Homo sapiens: one gene and its partners. The protein of the gene in region 1 purifies or fractionates together with the protein of each later gene. This does not show direct contact. Each region holds a gene or a part of one and is shown in the gene's direction. Other genes may lie near its edges.

Evidence for each region. The genes of interacting proteins can lie anywhere in the genome.
Region 2: the proteins of TM2D2 (region 1) and TMEM39A purify together in Homo sapiens (affinity purification with mass spectrometry; 2 studies listed by BioGRID and IntAct, with this or other methods). This does not show direct contact.
Region 3: the proteins of TM2D2 (region 1) and UQCC2 purify together in Homo sapiens (affinity purification with mass spectrometry; 2 studies listed by BioGRID and IntAct, with this or other methods). This does not show direct contact.

The regions. Positions count from the first base shown.
Region 1 is NC_000008.11:38,993,509-39,000,586, reverse strand, and holds the start of TM2D2 (TM2 domain-containing protein 2 isoform a precursor), read left to right. Parts: upstream 1-4,077; 5' UTR 4,078-4,147; coding exon 4,148-4,374; intron 4,375-4,792; exon of another isoform or gene 4,793-5,083; coding exon of another isoform or gene 5,084-5,181; coding exon 5,182-5,269; intron 5,270-6,926; coding exon 6,927-7,042; intron 7,043-7,078. Other genes in the region: ADAM9 (disintegrin and metalloproteinase domain-containing protein 9 precursor), read right to left, coding at 3,427-3,523.
Region 2 is NC_000003.12:119,428,413-119,432,615, reverse strand, and holds the end of TMEM39A (transmembrane protein 39A), read left to right. Parts: intron 1-401; coding exon 402-635; 3' UTR 636-3,667; downstream 3,668-4,203. UniProt on the Homo sapiens protein: Regulates autophagy by controlling the spatial distribution and levels of the intracellular phosphatidylinositol 4-phosphate (PtdIns(4)P) pools.
Region 3 is NC_000006.12:33,701,665-33,708,700, reverse strand, and holds part of UQCC2 (ubiquinol-cytochrome c reductase complex assembly factor 2), read left to right. Parts: intron 1-7,036.

The DNA.
Region 1 (7,078 bases):
AGGAGGCTTAGGCAGGAGGATTGCTTCAGCCCAGGAATTCGAGGTTACAGTGATCTATGACTGTTCCACTGCACTCCAGCCTGGGCAACAGAGCAAGACCCTGTCTCTCAGAAAGAAAAAAAAAAGATGTGACTCAAGCAGTGTCCCACATATGATCACTTAGGGAAAATAATCTGATTAAAATAACAACATGAAATGGAAAATAAACTACAATAATCTCTCAATATACAAACAACATTGTGCTACCCAACTTTAGTTGGGTCCACATTAGACCCATTCAAAGACTGTGAGAGAGGCTGGGGCGCGGTGGCTCATGCCTGTAGTCTCAGCGCTTTGGGAGGCTGAGGTGGGCGGATCACGAGGTCAGGAGGTCGAGACCATCCTGGCTAATACCGTGAAACTCCATCTCTACTAAAAATACAAAAAACTAGCCAGGCATAAGGCTGAGGCAGGAGAATTGCTTGAACTCGGGAGGTGAAGGTTGCAGTGGGCCGAGATCGTGCCACTGCACTCCAGCCTGGGCGACACAGCAAGACTCCATCTCAAAAAAAAAAAGACTGTGAGGGATTAGCTACTGAGATACAAAAGGACTGCATTCATTTATGAGGCAGTTCCATAGCGCTGACTCAAAAGGATGGCATGACTCCAAGCCTCCAGTATATGTTACATACCAAAAAGGAAAAAGAAATATGAGGCTATGTCATATGTTTGAGCTTGCGGATATTCCCAAGAAAAAGCTTCCAGTTACTTAGAGCTTGCATCTTTTGGGGGATTCCATAATAAATTCTATTATAAACCCAGATTTTTTACAAAGAGCAAATATAAATTTGGTAAGTTAAAGCTTCAAGTGCTTTTTGAAAACTGTCTTGGAAACCAGGAACTAGGTTTGTACATATTTTAATTATATATGCTTTCTTTTTTACTTAAAAGGTTGAAAACCAAATCATTCTTAAATGTAAAAGGCTACATTCTCCTATCGGCACAAACACAAACATATCAAATTCAAATATTTTGCTGGCATCTGAAAACGAGATTAGTATGGACCTAAGTTCTTACTACACAAATGATTTTACAGTGACTCACCATGAGTAAGCTTTCAAAGTCATTTTCTTTAGAATGCCAGTCTTTGTTTAAAAAAAAATTCTAAATCTGTTCCTCATAATTACTACCTTAGAAAATCAGAAGAGGTTTCATACCTGATTCCGCTTATTTTTTACAATGACACAGTTACCTTTGTCAGTTTAAAAAAAAAAAAAAAGTTTACTGAAAGTTAGCTGTTTGGAAATTATACTGCATTTCCTCATTGAGACAATGTTATAAAAGGTAGTAAAAATCCTATAAAACCTAATTAACTCCTAATGTAACTGACGTGTGCCTGGTACCTCAAATTCCTCTTTCGATCCTGGAAAATGTTTCAGTGCACGTTTTAAACACCTTATACTGCAAAAATGTGGTCAGCTGATTTTGTATGAACGTTCCCCGAGAGAAACAAGAGTTGACTCACTGCACACTATTACAAAAGCCTCTTAACCGGTGTCCCAGCCTCTAGTCTCTCCCTCCTAGATTCTATCCTCCACCGTGTTGCCCGTTTTCTTAACAGAAAATGAGATTAGGTCGCACCCCTACTTAAAACCTCCACTGCCCAAAGAACTTCCTACGGGGTGAAGTCCAAACCCCTTAGTTCAGCATAGAAGACTCTTCCCAACTGGTAACAACCTACCTTAGTTTGATCTTCCATCCCTCCCTTTTATAGTCTGCATGAAGACATATTGACATTTTTATCATTTCCTAAAAAGTCATGTTCTTTCATACGCCCCCCGCCCCACCATACTCTTGCAAAAACTTTCCTCTGCTTAGAATGTATCTACTATTCTACTTGAAAAATCACCGATGTAGCCCAGTTCAAATATTATTTTCTCTAAAAATCTTCCCCAACATCTCTCAGATGCGCTTAGCATATTTGGTCACCTTCTGCCCCTCTACAATCAACTGTGTGGTGTTTATAGGAGTTCCATAAACGGTGGCTAAACTTTGAAGGGGCATACACATGCCGAAGTGAGGAGCTGGCCAAAACCACAGTTAAAGACCATCAGGATATTCCACTCACCTAATGCAGGTCGGTAATGACTGACAATTTATATTAACATTTAAAAATACAGTCTTATTTACATTTACAAACACAAAAAAAAATCACAGATTAATAAAACTCCGGATGTATAATCGTCTTCACCTTAAACATCGGTGAGTGTTAACCATCTAGAATACCACCGGAAAAGTAGTTTTAACCAGAAGAAATTTGGCAACTTCCCATTCAAAACATTGTCAGAGTTTCAACATTTCCACACTGGGGCAAATTTACTTAATTTCAAATAAAGCAGCCAAAGATAAGAAAAACAAGTAATTAGTTTCCTGAAGGTCAACAGTCCTGCGTTGAAATCTTCTATCATCACCTTTGAATAACTTTCAATCAATGATTTAGTAAAAACTCCCATTCTCCATCATCCTCTGTCGCTGATAGAGAAAATACAGCCATGCAAACAATTATATCATACAAAATCCAAAATAAACAACTTGTTTCCAGAAAGACGCCAGCGTGCTGACAATCTGCTTCCACTATGTTTGGGCATCTCCAATACAAGTATCTTACATAGTCAAGGGCAGTTTCACAATTCAAAAACGATTTCACACAAATGATTTAATTCCTACAATAATCCTGTGAGTTCAAAAGAGCAGGGATTATCTGTCCGGATTTAACACAGTACGAACCCAATAAAAACACAGATTTTTTAAGAATGGTTTGGCTATAGAAAGGTAGCACATCGTTTACAAAATATTCTTACTACAAAAATGACCCAAGAGAAATGAGCGTCCTCCCACCCACCTTTATTCCACCATTAAATTTAGCTGTGTTGACCCAAGGATACCATGAACGTCAAAATTTCAAATTATAACCTGCAGCAAAAGTTTCATCTCTCAGTCTCTTTCCAAGCGACATTAACTCCACGAGCGAGAGCCAGCTCCCTCCCTGCAGGCGTTTGGAGGACTGAACGCCCGCGGGCGCGCCCAGCCTGCAGGGCTCCGGCCCGCCGAGGTCAGCGCCCGCCCCAGAGCGGGTTTCGGGGCGTCTGGGGGACCCGGGGTCGCGCGAGGCGGCGAGGGATGGGGGGACGCTGGGAACGGCTCCATCGAACAGGACACGGAGGAAGCGGTGCCGGGCAGAGGACCCGGGCCAAGAAGGGCTTGGGGCGCCAAACCCCGCGCCTCGGGTGCGACCCCGGTCCGCACACACCTGGAGCGGCCGCGCCCCCCGACCCCGGGTCCGATCCCCAGGCCGGGCCCCTCCACTCCCAGGCACCACAGGTTCACTCCGAGCGCCCCGTCCCTAGGAAGCAGCCGTCCCAACCGACCCGGGGCGCGGACACCCACCTGGCCGCGCCGCACCGAGGACTGGGCCCACCAGGCCAAGCAACAGCAACCACCGGACACGAAGGGTCCCCGAGGGAAAGCGCGCGCCAGACCCCATCTCGGCCGATTCCGCAGGTTCCTCTCAGCACTCGGTCGCCTCCACCTCCGCCTCTTCCATCATTTTCCAACCCTGCCGGGGCCCCAAGTCTGGCCGGGAAGCGCGCGCGCCCGACGAGCACGCGCGCCCGACGAGCACGCGCGCGGCACTGACGCAACTGAGCCCTCGGTCCGAGCTCGCTCCCGACATCGCCTAGCTGCGCTGACGTAGGGAAAAATCCAGTCCCCGGCGCGAGAATAGGATTTCTAAACCGGCGGTGGCAACCAGCACTAGTCGGCCCGCCAGTCATATCCGCCCCGCCCCGTCGGCTGCCGGGCACGCCCACCTAGGGGGGTCGACGGATCCGATTGGAGAACGCATTCGGCGCAAAAGAAGGAGGAGCATGAGACCCAGAAGAGGAATCGAGAAGCAGAAGCAGAGGGCGGAGTAGCCCCGCCCGTCTGCTCGACCTTTTCTAGTTGGTTGGCGGAGGTGCGCGGAGCGTCGAGCTGCGCGTCCATTGGCTGTTTGGCGGGGCTACGCGGGCGGGGCTACGCGGAAAGGCCTGACCACGCAGTTCTTGGGTCTGTGCTGCTGGCCTGGGGTTGTGGTTGAGGCCGGGTCTCCGCTCCTGTGCCCGGGAAGATGGTGCTAGGTGGTTGCCCGGTTAGTTACTTACTTCTGTGCGGCCAGGCGGCTTTGCTGCTGGGGAATTTACTTCTGCTGCATTGTGTGTCTCGGAGCCACTCGCAAAATGCGACCGCTGAGCCTGAGCTCACATCCGCTGGCGCCGCCCAGCCGGAGGGCCCCGGGGGTGCTGCGAGCTGGGAATATGGCGACCCCCACTCTCCGGTCATCCTCTGCTCTTACCTGTAAGCTACCAGTGGTCGAGGCGGGTGGACGTGGAGGGTGTGCCAGGAATATATGGGTGTTAAGGGAAGGCAGGGTTGGGGGGACGCTGCATTTTTTCAGACCCTGCCTCTCTGAGGTCGTTCCGGAGGCAAATATCATGAACCAGGTTTCTCACAGCCCGTGCAGAGAAAACTCTTGTGTGTCAGTGACAGAGGCTTTGAGATCCCCAAAGAGGAAAACTGGGTAGGAGTAACATCATATAGCCTCTGGAAGAAGGGCGTAAGGTTGTGCTTTCTTTGCCCTGCGCCCTTTAGCCCAAGGAGAGTATTAGTCGGTCGATTCGGTGCCAGTACTGAGTAAGGCATAAATGGAGTAAATGACTTGTCTCTGCCTACAAGGCATCTTTTAAAAAAGCAATCAATATTCTTACCGTTGCAGAATCACGCCATTTTTTAACATCTCTTTTTGATCAAACAAGAAAAGGCATTTGGGAAATGCAAAGAGGACTGAGAATACTTTGGCTTAAATTTTGCCCCCAGAATCTTGTTGTTTGCCTACTGAAGAGATGAAACCATGGCAGAAGTAGAATCCTTATAGAAACAGGACCAGAAACACCTCCCTTCTCCAACAAAAGGTTCATTTTGGTGGCTGTCCGTTTGACCTGCTGTGCTTCAGTTTAATTGGCTTGGAAAGGGGTCAGCAGGGTGAAACCGAACCCCAGAAAACTTGATGAAGAAATGTCTTTTGCCCGTTTTGATTACGTGCATGCAAACAGCGATTTGCAAAGACCGTATGATGATGATCATGATCTTACTGGTGAATTACAGACCTGATGAATTTATAGAATGTGAAGACCCAGTGGATCATGTTGGAAATGCAACTGCATCCCAGGAACTTGGTTATGGTTGTCTCAAGGTGAGTTTTTGTTTTGTCGTAAGAGCAAACCCTTCGATAACGAAATAGGAATGTCTGAATGCTATTACATAAAAGTATAAGAGGTACAAAGTTTTTTGAAGAATTTCCTCAGAAAGACCGTTACTGGAAATTTCCAGTATGGCCAGGGTCAGTGACTGAACAAGATATTTGGTTTCCTTATGAAGGAGCAATCTCTGTGCTAAAACCACCCAGGTGCAAAGACCAACCTGTCTTTGGTTCCTTTGGCCACTGACAGATTTTGAAACTAAAATGTCACCCCTGACTCTCCTTCAAGGCATGAACCTTTCCTGAAAGAGCAAAAGGAAGTCTGTGCACTTTGCAACACTGGTGATGGATTGGGCAGTATCTTTGTTACACATGCATTTGGGGCAGAGCTTTTCTTGCCAATGACATTTCTTTTCTCCAGGCAAACAGGTTCCACCATGTCCGTAGGAGACAGATAGAGTCTACCGGTATATGTCTTTGTAGGACATTAAAGCGTTCCAGCGGAAGCCATTGGTTAACAGTGGCTTCTTGGAATGGAAAAACGCTATTAAGGTTTATTAGTAATATCCCTAAAGCTGAGTGTACAGTTCCTAATCAATCTCTCAAAATAACCAATGAAGTTCATGTATCTCCTCCCCACCATGGACTCGCCATCCTATTATGCCACATAATGCAAGTCAAGATTTGGTCAGATGTTAAGAGAATGATGGGAAGGCATGTTTTGTACTAAATCAGACACAGAGGAATAAACCTGACAGTAATAAGACTAAAAGGGCAACTCTTACTGAAATCATGTATAGATAAATATTTAAGACAATGAAATTTTACTCTGTTGATAATTATTGATTAAAGTTTGAGTTAATATTGTATAGAGATCACTTTTGCCCATTTTAATTAAAAATTGAGTTTATCCTGTAAGCATTCTTATTTCCCAGTCCCTTCCCTTTGAGGAACTCGCCAATGAAAATAGTAATAAGCACTGATATAAGGTACCAGTAAAAAATGAATATCTGTGATTTCTTGGCTAGAATTCAGTTAAGCAATGGTAAGAGGCCCAGTTCTGAAATTTTTGGCTGGAATTTAAACTTAACAGGTGTCCCACAGATATCAGGTAATACACATTTATGACCTAAATAAAGTCCTGAGTCAGATAATATCCTGAGTTCTTTCCTAATTCTATTCATTTTTAATAGATATAAAAGAGACCTCTAATAGGCAGTGACTTTTTAAATACCCACTCCCAAATGCTCAGTTATATGCTCTTTTTCCTGTAAATATGTATAAGCTTATACATATAAATATGTATAAGCATATACATATGCTTATAAGTAAAGATAAGTAAAGCATTGTGTTCATCTCTTCTAAATGGCCTTTAATGACACTGAGTGTGTTTGGGGGTTTTTTTTACTATATTATTGAAGAAGCCAGTCATGAAGAAGAAAGCAGGAGTTTATTTAAGACAGTGTACCTTTAAGATGGACTCAGAAGTGTGTCACTAAATTCCTTGCCCTTGAGCACAGCTGTACCTCAACCTTGTTGGAATAATTGTAGTCCTGAGGCCGCTTTCATTCTGTTATTAGTGAATATAAAGATAGATGTTTGTGTCACTTGCTCTGGTGAGTTGGTTTTGGTCTTGGTTGTTATTCCACAGTTCGGCGGTCAGGCCTACAGCGACGTGGAACACACTTCAGTCCAGTGCCATGCCTTAGATGGAATTGAGTGTGCCAGTCCTAGGACCTTTCTACGAGAAAATAAACCTTGTATAAAGTAAGTGTTACTTTGATTGGAGTAGTTGGTACTTGG
Region 2 (4,203 bases), on another chromosome or scaffold:
ATTTTTGCCTCTTGACTTACAAAGCCTAAAATATTTCCTGTTTGGTCCTTTATCCACCTCTGTCTTAGATGAATATACTTTTGTGTTTATCCTAAATAAAATATATACCTAAAATATAATCTAAGAAAAATGTTTATAAGTAGTTTTCTTTTGGGCATAATCTCTTTTCGTGTCTCAGGGGCATTGAAATAAAAATTATTTCATTATTTCTTGAGCAAAAAGGAAAAGGTTTCAATCTTTATAGCAAGAAATAGCCTGATTGATATTAAATAAACAGATCTATTTATTATTATATATGGGAACCTGTAAATGTTAAATTATTTTAGAAAAATCAATGCAAGAATAACTGTAGCCATTACTTTTCTATGAAATAATGTTTTACTTTTTTAACTTCCTTACAGTTCTTATTTCATCGACCATTAAGGCTGTTAAATCTGCTCATCCTTATTGAGGGCAGTGTCGTCTTCTATCAGCTCTATTCCTTGCTGCGGTCGGAGAAGTGGAACCACACACTTTCCATGGCTCTCATCCTCTTCTGCAACTACTATGTTTTATTTAAACTTCTCCGGGACAGAATAGTATTAGGCAGGGCATACTCCTACCCACTCAACAGTTATGAACTCAAGGCAAACTAAGCTGCCTCTCAACAATGAGGGAGAACTCAGATAAAAATATTTTCATACGTTCTATTTTTTTCTTGTGATTTTTATAAATATTTAAGATATTTTATATTTTGTATACTATTATGTTTTGAAAGTCGGGAAGAGTAAGGGATATTAAATGTATCCGTAAACAAGGTGATGTGATCTTTCATGTGTTAGTATATTCGAATAATATACATATGAGAGGTATGCCTGTCCAGTAAAGAGATTGATTTGTTTGTATGGCTCTGGAATAACTCATTCGTTTATGAACACATCTCATGTATTACTTGACACAGTACCTTTGGTATGTCTGCTTTTCTTTCAATCCTCATTATCTTTAGCCCTCAGCTGGCCAGTACTTATTGCTAAAGAAAGGGAGATCAATGGAGTTGCCTACCAGCACCCATTCTCTTTTAGTTCAGCTGGCTAATAGTATTGGAATACATTGGGAAAAGAGTGGGTTAAAGTCCTAGGTGGGGTTCTCTTTGTTGCCTACCAGGAGAAAGCAGTAGGCTTCCTTTCTAAGATACGGACTCAGCTGGTCTATTTTACCCTGTGACATTTAAATATACTTTTGAATAAGCTACTATCCTGAGGCTGAGGGTTTTGCTGCCACTTTTCCTGTGTTTCCACTTCTGCTTCCAAAGATTTTCCTCTTAGTTGTTTGAAATAATACTTTGCCAGACAGGAAGTCTTTAGACTGCCCACATTCATGAAGAAGATGATGTGTGGCTGGATCAGTAGGAGAAGCTGAGTGCAAATGCCATGTGGGCTAGAGTATGGGAAGGTTGAAAATTCCAAGTAACTGGGAGAGTGGGCAAGTCCTCAGCTGAACAATCTTGGATGTAGTCTAGCAGCAACCCACCTACAATGGCGTTATGTTTGGAGTTATGAGGGGAAGTGAAAGATAAGAATTACCTACAGCTTTGTACTCAGATAATTTATATCCAAAATTTGTGTTTTAAATTTCATACTCCAGAACTTTCATGTTTATGAGTATTAGCCTTTTAAGTTATGGGAGGTGATATACTTAGTCCATTGATGTTGTCACTTGTCATCTAAACTTATGAGACCTTGTCTTAGAGAATCTAAAATATATTGTCATATGTTTTCTGTGCTGAGTTTGGTTTGTTACACTGTGAAGCTTTTGGTGAAACAAAATAAGACTTATGAAGTAAAAAGACCAATCATGTCGTTGACAAGCTGGCTCTGAAAATAATTCTTGCAGAAGAGTTCCTGAAAGGCTTCACCAAGGGGAAGTATTGTGAGGAGTGTTTGTAAAACCAAGGTACCCAATATCAGTTTTATGTTTAAATCAATAATTGTTTCTTTAAATATTTTGATGTGTATACTTTTTTTTTAAGTTAACATTATTTGGCATTCAGTCTGAGTCTGTTCAACCATTCAACAAATATATATTAACCAGTAGGCACTATATTAGGCCCTGGGGATATAGCAGTGAATGAGAAATGCAAAGGTCCTACTTGCACAGAGCTTACAATATGCGTGGGGGTGGGGGAGTTAGGTGGTGCAGAAAATACAGCAAATAAATTTATGTGTAATATAACATTCCCTGGTAGTAGTGATAAGTGTAGCAAAGGGAAATCAGGACAAGGAAATAGTGGTAAGAATAGCACTGCTAGAAGGCATCTTTGAGGAGATGATTTTTAAGCAAAGAAAAAGCAAGACTGAATCATATAAATAGCTTTGGGGAGAATTCCATGTTACAGTAGCAGAAAGGGCAGTGCCCTGAGGTGGGGACAAGTTGGTATATTGGAAGAATAGCAAGAAAATATATTAGGTTAGTTGCTTTTTAAAGTAGTTCAGCCTAAATATAGTGGTTCTTGAGGTAGGGGTGGGAAGGGTAGGGAATCTGCCATCTTTCTATTCTTTCTGTAGGATCTTGAAAATATGCTTCTCTTGGCAGCAACATTTTCATGAGATTACTCAGCAGTTGAGAGCAAAATGGGTGGCATGGGCACAGAGATATCTCATCAAAATTGCCCCAACTTGGCTCCAGCTTGGGAAAGTAACCCAGAAAACCCTGATTAGAGATAACAGACCAGTCTTATGAACTAATATGATGCCCCTTCTGGCTTGATCTGTCTTGGTCCTATCCTAAGGGAATAGCACAGAACCAGATGCTGGCTTGGCTAAATAAGTAAGTGGATATAAGAAATAAATAAAAATTAATTTTGGCTAATGGAATTGCAAAGTTCCTCCTACCCTCACCTCCAGATATGGCAGCATACGGGGCATAAGACCGTTTAGTTCAACGTGTTCTACACATTCCAGCTGTTTTTTGTTTGTTTGTTTTGTTGTTTTGTTTTTGTAGGGGCCACGTTCATGGAAGAGAGAAAAATTACTAGTTACCCGGATATCCTATTATAGTTCATGTAACAGAAGGGACACTATATTTGCTCACTGATAGTAGAAAAATGTGTAATCATTAAAGAATGACCTTTTTTGTAATTCTTTGTTGGCAAGTTAAAATTGTTTGTGGAAAGCATGGTATAGCAAAAGTTCAGTTGGGTGAACTGGGATACTGGAAAAGGAAAGAAGATACTTGACTAGTCTGGGTGGTCTAAGGTGGGTAAATAAAGGAGTAGAGGAGGGTAGTTCACAGGAATGAGCATGACAGAAGTTTTCCTCAATATCCTGTTTACTCTGATTCCATGTTTATATTCCTAATCCTCCTTTCCTTCCTGTCCCTATCAGTCACCACCACTGCCACCTGTTGTGCCGTTTCTCTCTCTTTTTTTTAATTAATTTTTTTATTTCTATTAAGCTAGCCAGGCATCTCATTTCTATGTACTGGGCAATTATATGCCAAACACTGCTGGGTGCCGGAGATAGTGATGTTCGAGTTCATTAACTAATAGAAGACAGACAAGTAAACCAGTTGTCACACTAGGGTGTTCATTAACAGAAATATGTATGAGATACGTAATAGATATCAGATCTATTAACAATCTTGAGTGTGAAGCCCAATAAAGTGCTCTTTTCATAAGTACTTCAAATAAGCAGACAGATGTCTTGGAACTTTTGTAGACAGAAGACAGCTAATGAAAGATTATAAGCTAAGAATAACTTATGATCCACTGGTTTCTAGTTCCCAAAGTAATCTCTAGATCAGCAGCATCAGCATCACTTAACTGATCAGCTGACCCTTCTGGAATCATAGGATAGACTAAATAGTGAAGGTCTATCCCTTCCCAAGAACACCTGTAACGGCCAGAAGAGGGGGCTGTCTCCTCAAATGCACTGACAACAATACAAGAACATACAGATTATGAAGAATCAGGGAATCATGACACCTACAAAAGAAACTAATAAAGCTCCAATAATAGACCCCAAAGAAATGGAGATTTATGAAATAACTGACAAAGAATTCAGAATAATACCCATAAAGAAGTTCAGTGAACTATTAATATATACAGATAAAAAATTTAATGAAATTTGAAAACAGTACACTAAAAAGAAAGTTGACAAATAGAAACAATAAGAATGGGATAGAAATTCAAGAGACTGAAAAATTCAACAGAAAGCTTCAACAGCT
Region 3 (7,036 bases), on another chromosome or scaffold:
GCAGCAGGAGGTGGGGCTTAGATCCAGTTGACTGACTAGTATGGAGCTCCTCCTTGGTTAAGCCGGTTGCCAGAAGACAGAACTGGAGGGGAAAGTAGCTCTGCTCATGCCGTCTTTCCATTTCCGTAGAGGAGAGAGGCAGTCAGTCCTCCTCTCAGCCTCTTGGCTTCCTTCGTCCTAATGATCACCCTGAAAGGTGCACAGTGCACCTTTGCCGGCGTGATCTCATTTAATCCTTAGTACAGCTGAGTGGTAGCCATTACTGTTCCCATTTTACAGATGAGGAAACATCAGAAAAACAAGACAACGCACTGGGGGTTCCGTAGCCATAAGAGACAAGCCAAGTGAGAAACAGACCCAGCCCCTCTGGCCCTAGTGTGCATCGTCTCCTGGGTGCCTGGCCTTTCCTCAGCTGCTGTTCCAAGTTATTGTTAGAACAACCTCTTATTCCATGAACGTCAAACCACTTCCTTCCCCTGGTTGCCCGTTCAAACCTTTTTGGGCCATAGATAGTTTGGGCAGCAAATGGAACTCCCTGTGTTTACCCACCTATTCTTTGCCCCAGCCACTACCAGTCCAGATGGGAAGAAAGATGGTCCTGGGTGGGACACCAGGCGGAGAAAAGCTGGGTTAACTAAAGGGCAAATCAATAATTCATACACAAAACCAGAGTACAAAAACCACTGCCTCCATTTATTCCACCTCAAATTGCCCTCTGGGGAGTCTTGTGGTCCACCCTAAACCCACCAAGTGGGGAGGTGGTGGTGGGAGCGGGAACACATGTAACTCCTCTTACACCCCATATCCTATTGTGTAGTTTTAAAAAGTCAGTGTTTATGGGCTTTGCCAATTTTGAATACAGTTTGTCTAAGAACACGTGTTTCCTACAGCGCTGAGAGCTTAATAAAAGAATTGCAACGTGGGGGAAGGTGGCACAACAAATGTAATTGTTGACCTAACAACAGAGAAAGGAGCAGATCTTTCTAATGAGTTCATTAGGTGCTTCCTAAAAGATCCCGGACTGCACACCAGCACCCACTTATGTAGCACAAGGTGCAACTCCGAGGGGCGTCCTAGAAGAGCTGCTGCTCTTCGCCCACCAGGGAGTTCTAACTGTATTGTATGCAAGTTTAAGTATAATAATATTGGCCCAGTTTGAAAGAAGTTAAACTTTTTCTTGGGTTTCTAATAAGGTAAATGGTATTTCCACCTTCTCAGAGGAGAATTCAAAGGTTTTTTTGATTCTGTTTTCTCAGTCATCCATTTGAGGCCTGGTCCTTGGCATTCCTCAGTGTGGCAGGGAGCTAGCTCCCAAGCCACCTGGCATATGCTGGCCACGGTGAAGCCATCTCAACGTTGCTCACCCCCACTTGTGGGCCCCCTGAAGTTATGCTTTTGAAGAGTGTCCTAAGAACAGATTATCCTATTTTTAATTATGTATTGAGCCCATCGAAAACCTGGAGTTGTAAGGAGAATCATCTCTAAGAGGGAATACAAACATCTCCATCTTTTTTTCTCTCCCAATTCTGAATGGCGCCAGTGTGAGCTAGGGTAGTATTCACACCAAGGGGTGGCGTTTATCTCTGCATATGTAAAGCTGCAGTGCTCCACCTGAAGGGATAAATTCTTGGCCACTTCTGGTGGGTCACTACTTTATTCAAAGATGTTTGGGGTCTGCCCATTGCCTCCTGGGCAGGTGGCAGGCAACTTTGTGAGACCTGCAGTGCCTCTGATCCTTGGTCCCAGCCTGTGTTTCCAACCTTGCCTCGCACCACCCTAACATGAGCCCCAGGCTCAGCAAGGGTGTCTTCTCATGGTCTCCCAAACTGGCCATGGTACAAGCAATTCTGATCCTTTGAGACTTAAGTGCGCTGTGGATCACTGCACCCCTACAACCGCAAAAAACCCAAACACAGAGTTTGTCAAGAATTTGGTGGCTTCCCAGGCTCTTGGAGCCCTCCCTGGGTTCCCCTTAAAAGCCCTGTCTGCCTAAAACACTCTTGTCCTGTGCCTCTTCATGCCTCATCCTCCCAGTCATTTCTGGTCCCTGTGTCACTCATGCCCAGGTTGGCACTCCTCACTCTCTGCACTGTCGCTGCAGTGAAACTCAGCCCTTTCCTGCCACACCTCCCCATCAGCACAGCCAGGTGCCCAACTCCCACCTCGGGTCTCGTGCAGCGGCCCGTGCTCCGCAGATCTGGCTCTCACTTACACATTGCCCCGGGCAGGGTTGGTTTCTAATTCATGTGTATCTTGTCTCTGTAGTGTGCCTGCCAGCTTCTCCACAGCTGGCCTGGGTCGTCGTCTTTGTGGCCCCTCACCGTCCCCTAGTGGAGCACTCTTTCTATAGTAGGTGCTCAAGAAATACATTTTCAACTCAATTGAAGGGAATAGGCTCCCATAACAGAATGAACTCATTTCAGAAGTTCATTACCAAGTCTTGAAAACCTTTTTTTATAGATCCTCCTGGACCGAATCCAGCTCTACCTTAATTAGCAAAGCAATTTGCAACACCCTTTCCCAAAAGTGCTTATGCGTCCCTTTGTGTGACTAGAATAGGGGCCGCTGTACCAATTGCTGTCACCACCCAAAATTCAATTTGCAAAATCGAAATCAGTGCCTGCAGCACTGATGTAGATTTGTATGTATAAAAGTTTAATATGGTAAAGAGAAATTTACTGACGACTGAACAGGGGAAATGCAAAAGGAGCAAAAATAGAGCTATAAAGGACACTCGTCAGATGAACATCTATTTTATTCACATTTGGGGAGCAGTGCTGAATTTTTCATAATGTCCCCACTGCTGCCTTTTCAAACCCAGCACTGCTATTAGTCCTAAAACGTCTGTGATCTCATTAGGTGTGAATGCAAAATCAGGTAATTTAAAGCATGTATTAAGAATATTTCTAAAAATGCACCGTCCATTTCATCAGAAAAACTGCATTTCAGAGCTCAGGAATGTTAGTGCTGGAGTCTGTGAATAAAGTGTAAGCTATAGGAACGTGGTGAGGCTTCTGGAATTCGACAGATGTCTCCACTGACATCCTTTTAAGTAGTAAGCATGACTTTTTTAATTGCTGAGCTTGAGTTATCTGTGGCTAGGAACCCAGCATTGACCAAGGCTTCATCACTCCTCAAGCAGTAAGAACTTGGCTAGAAATGGGCATGTCTCAAACTCCTGTCACCTCCACTGAGCTGCTTTTACAGCCTCAGTTAGACACCTTCTGACCTCAGACGGGAAACTGGATGGCAAGTCTGTTTTAGGACTCAGGTGTTTGGTTTTCTTTCTCAGGTTACAGCTGAGTCCAGGAATTCTGGGAACTCTCTAGGAGACTGTCTCTTTCACACAGGAAGTTTCAGAAGTGAGAGTGGTCGGGTGCGGTGGCTCAAGCCTGTAATCCCAGCACTTTGGGAGGCCGAGGTGGGCGGATCACAAGGTCAGGAGATTGAGACCATCCTGGCTAACACGGTGAAACCCCATCTCTACTAAAAATACAAAAAATTAGCCAGGCGTGGTAGCGGGCGCCTATAGTTCCAGCTACTTGGGAGGCTGAGGCAGGAGAATGGCATGAACCCGGGAGGCGGAGCTTGCAGTGAGCCAAGATTGTGCCAGTGCACTCCAGCCTGGGCGACAGAGTGAGACTCCATCTAAAAAAAAAAAAAAAAAGAAGTGAGAGTACCTGAGGGTCACTTTGCTTTTTGCACTTAGACTTTGTACATTTTGCTCTTATAGGAGCAGCACTCTGCAAGGGTGACCCGCCCCCCATGCCCCTCCTGTCTGTCCTGCTGCTCATCAGGGATGGGACTACGTGGCAAGGAAGGACAGCACCTTATACCACACCTGCTTGAGGGTGTGATACAAGGTTGCTGAGCAACCTACTGGTGACTTCTCACTGCTAGAGAAGTTGGAGCAGGAAGGGAACTTGAGTTGAAAGGTATTTGAGGGTGGGGATCTGGTCAGAATGCAGGTTTATCAGGAAGCAGTGTTAGGAGCCCAGGAGAGAGGCAGAGGCTATGGGAGGAAGGCAGATCAGCTTGTGGACTCCTTTCCTAAGAGCTTGGTTGGGAAGGTGGTGGGGATGGTGGCAGGACGGGAAGGTCCAGATAAGCGGCCATCAGGTGAAGACCAGGTACAGCAAACAGCTGCTCTCTCGGCAGACCATGGAGAGCTCAGTGACTGCTGAGAGCCACCAGGGTCAGTCAGGAGTGAAGCCTCAGCAGTTTTTCATCCTTCCTCACTTCCGTTTCCAGCGCCACCCTCGGCAGTGCACACCAGCCATGCTGATCCACTGGTAACATGCTGACCCATTCCCTGGGCACGGGCTCCACCTGGTCCTGTGCCTGGAGCACCCCACTCCCTTGCCGGTACATGCGCCCATCCTCAGCCACTCATTGTCCAGCACTTCCTGCCTGGCCCCATAGGCCCATAGCACCTTGTACATGCCCCTTCATTCCACTCCCACCAGGGTGGTTCTGAACTGTTCTGTCCTTTCCCCTCTTATTTTATGAGACAGGGGCCTGTGTTTACTACAACTCTTTACTACTAATAACTGTGAGAAAAACTAATCGCTCACATTTATCGGCGTTCCAGGCCCGGAATTCAGAGCAGCCCAAGCGTCACCTCATTTATCCTCACACCACCGGGGACGTAGGGGCTATTATTATATTTTCTTTTAAAAGAAAGGTTAAGTTGGCCAGTATGCTTTAAAAATGTTCAGTGCATGAAAGACAAAGGCCGAGGAACGGTCCCGGATTAAAGGAGACTAAAAGATACATGACTGTTAAATGCAGCAGGACATCCTGTTTTTCCATAGATTATTATTGAGACAATTGACAGAATTGGAATATGGACTGTGCATTAGATAATAGTGTTGTATCGGTGTTAAGTGGCCTGAATTTGATCATTGAACTGTGGTTATATAAGAGAATGTTCTTGTTCTTAGGAAATGCACACTGAAATATTATGGGGTGAAGGGGCATTATGCTCCTACTTTCAAGTGGATCAGAAGAAGGATATGTATGTACAGATACAGAGAAAGATAAACTGTGGCAACTTTTTTTTTTTTTAAGTGTATTTCATGGGGAAGAGTGAGTGGTTTGCCTGACATCACATAGCTGATAAGGGATGGTGCCAGGAGTCAACCCAGGCAGTTTGACTCCCCTGCTCCCTACAGCCTTGGAGATACTCATTCACCCAAGCGTCCCCTGCTCATAGATGGGCCAATCATGCTATAGGGTCTCGATGAATGTCTGTTAAATTTATAAGTGAGCACACTTTGGGAGGCCGAGGTGGGCAAATCACAAGGTCAGGAGTTCGAGACCAGCCTGGCCAACATGGTGAAAGCCTGTCTCTGCTAAAAATACACAAAATTAGCTGGGCGTAGTGGTGGGTACCTGTAATCCCAGCTACTTGGGAGGCTGAAGCAGGAGAATCACTTGAACCCAGGAGGGGAGTTTGCAGTGAGCCGAGATCACGCCATTGCACTCCAGCGTTAGCTCTTGGCTGTGCGTGCCCTGCTGAAGAAATGTTCCAGATGTGTTCGCCCAGATGTGTGCAGAATTCCATTCTAATGGGACTTTCCCTGGACAAGCTGACCAGCAGCAGGGAGACCACAGCCTCATATTTTCCATTCATTCTGTCCACTCAGATAATGACTTTATTATTCAGCAAACGCTGGCCACCTCCTCAGGCCATAATCCTTCCTCTTCTGATGTATCTGGGTGTACATTCTCATGATGAGTAGCCTGAACGCAGGAATGGGTCAGGTAGAACTAAATGATGGATTGTCTTTTTTGTTTGCTGTAAAGTAGGGACCTCATTTGACATGCACAGAGAGGCAGCAGTGGAGCTGCCTATTAAACCACTTTACTACTGATTTATTTATGCTCTGCCTTCTCCAAGGAAGGATTTAAGTTAGGAAAAAATCCATCATTTGAATTCTGGGGGAAAAAATATAAAAGAGAAAGTTTTGTTCTGGGGAGCTTTTCAAAATTCTTGGCAGAAAAATATAAAGAACTATACATAAATAATAGGAAGGACAGAGTAAAGGGAAAGTTAGAAGAGGTGCAAGAGAAAAGACCACACCTCCTCTGTATGCTGCCTGTCTCCCTGAGAAGGTCCAGCAGGGGCACTGCTGTCTCTGGCACCAGAGAATTGACTTACATCACCCTTTCTATGGCAAGGCCTCAGTGTTCTGGGCCATCTCCTTTCTAGCAGGACCTAACTGTGGTCCTGGCTTGGTTCTCCTCAGTTTACACATTTTATCTTAAATGTTGCCTTCTTCATGTTTCTTTCCTTCTTGTAGAGTTTCAGCAGCTCCCCACTTATCATAGATTGAGAACTCAGATGATTTTTTTTTTTTTTGCCTTTGCTAAAAGAATCTGTTGGTCTGAGGCCGGGCATGGTGGCTCATGCCTGTAACCCCAACACTCTGGGAGGCTGAGGCAGGTGGATCGCTTGAGGTCAGGAGTTCGAAACCAGCCTGGCCAGCATGGTGAAACCCTGTCTCTACTAAAAAATACAAAAATTAGCTGGGTGTGGTGGCACATGCCTTTAATCCCAGTTACTCAGGAGGCTGAGGCTGGAGAATTGCTTGAACCCAGGAGGCGGAGGTTGCAGTGAGCCAAGATTGCGCCACTGCACTCCAGCCTGGGCAATAGAGTGAGAGACTGTCTCAAAAAAAACAAAAGAATCTACTGGTCTGGCCTGAAGCATCCCACAGGATTCCTGCCTCCTCTTCCTTGCTGACGGCATCTCCTCCCCCAGGAAGGCCTGCCCTTCTCCCTTCTGCTTGCTGACCTTCTGCTTGCTGACCTTCTGCTGTGCTTCCTTCAGAACCTAGCATTGTCTCACTTCCATCATGCACTGACCACTTGAGCATGCGGGGACTCCCCCACTGAGTCCCTGTAGCCCACTCTGCCCAGCACCCCCTTTGTTAGGCACGCCTTTCCAACCTTACATTTCTATTGTGGCATCTCCCACTGCAGCTGGTGTCGTGGCTCACAAGTCACAGATGCTCAACAAATGCTTGTTTGC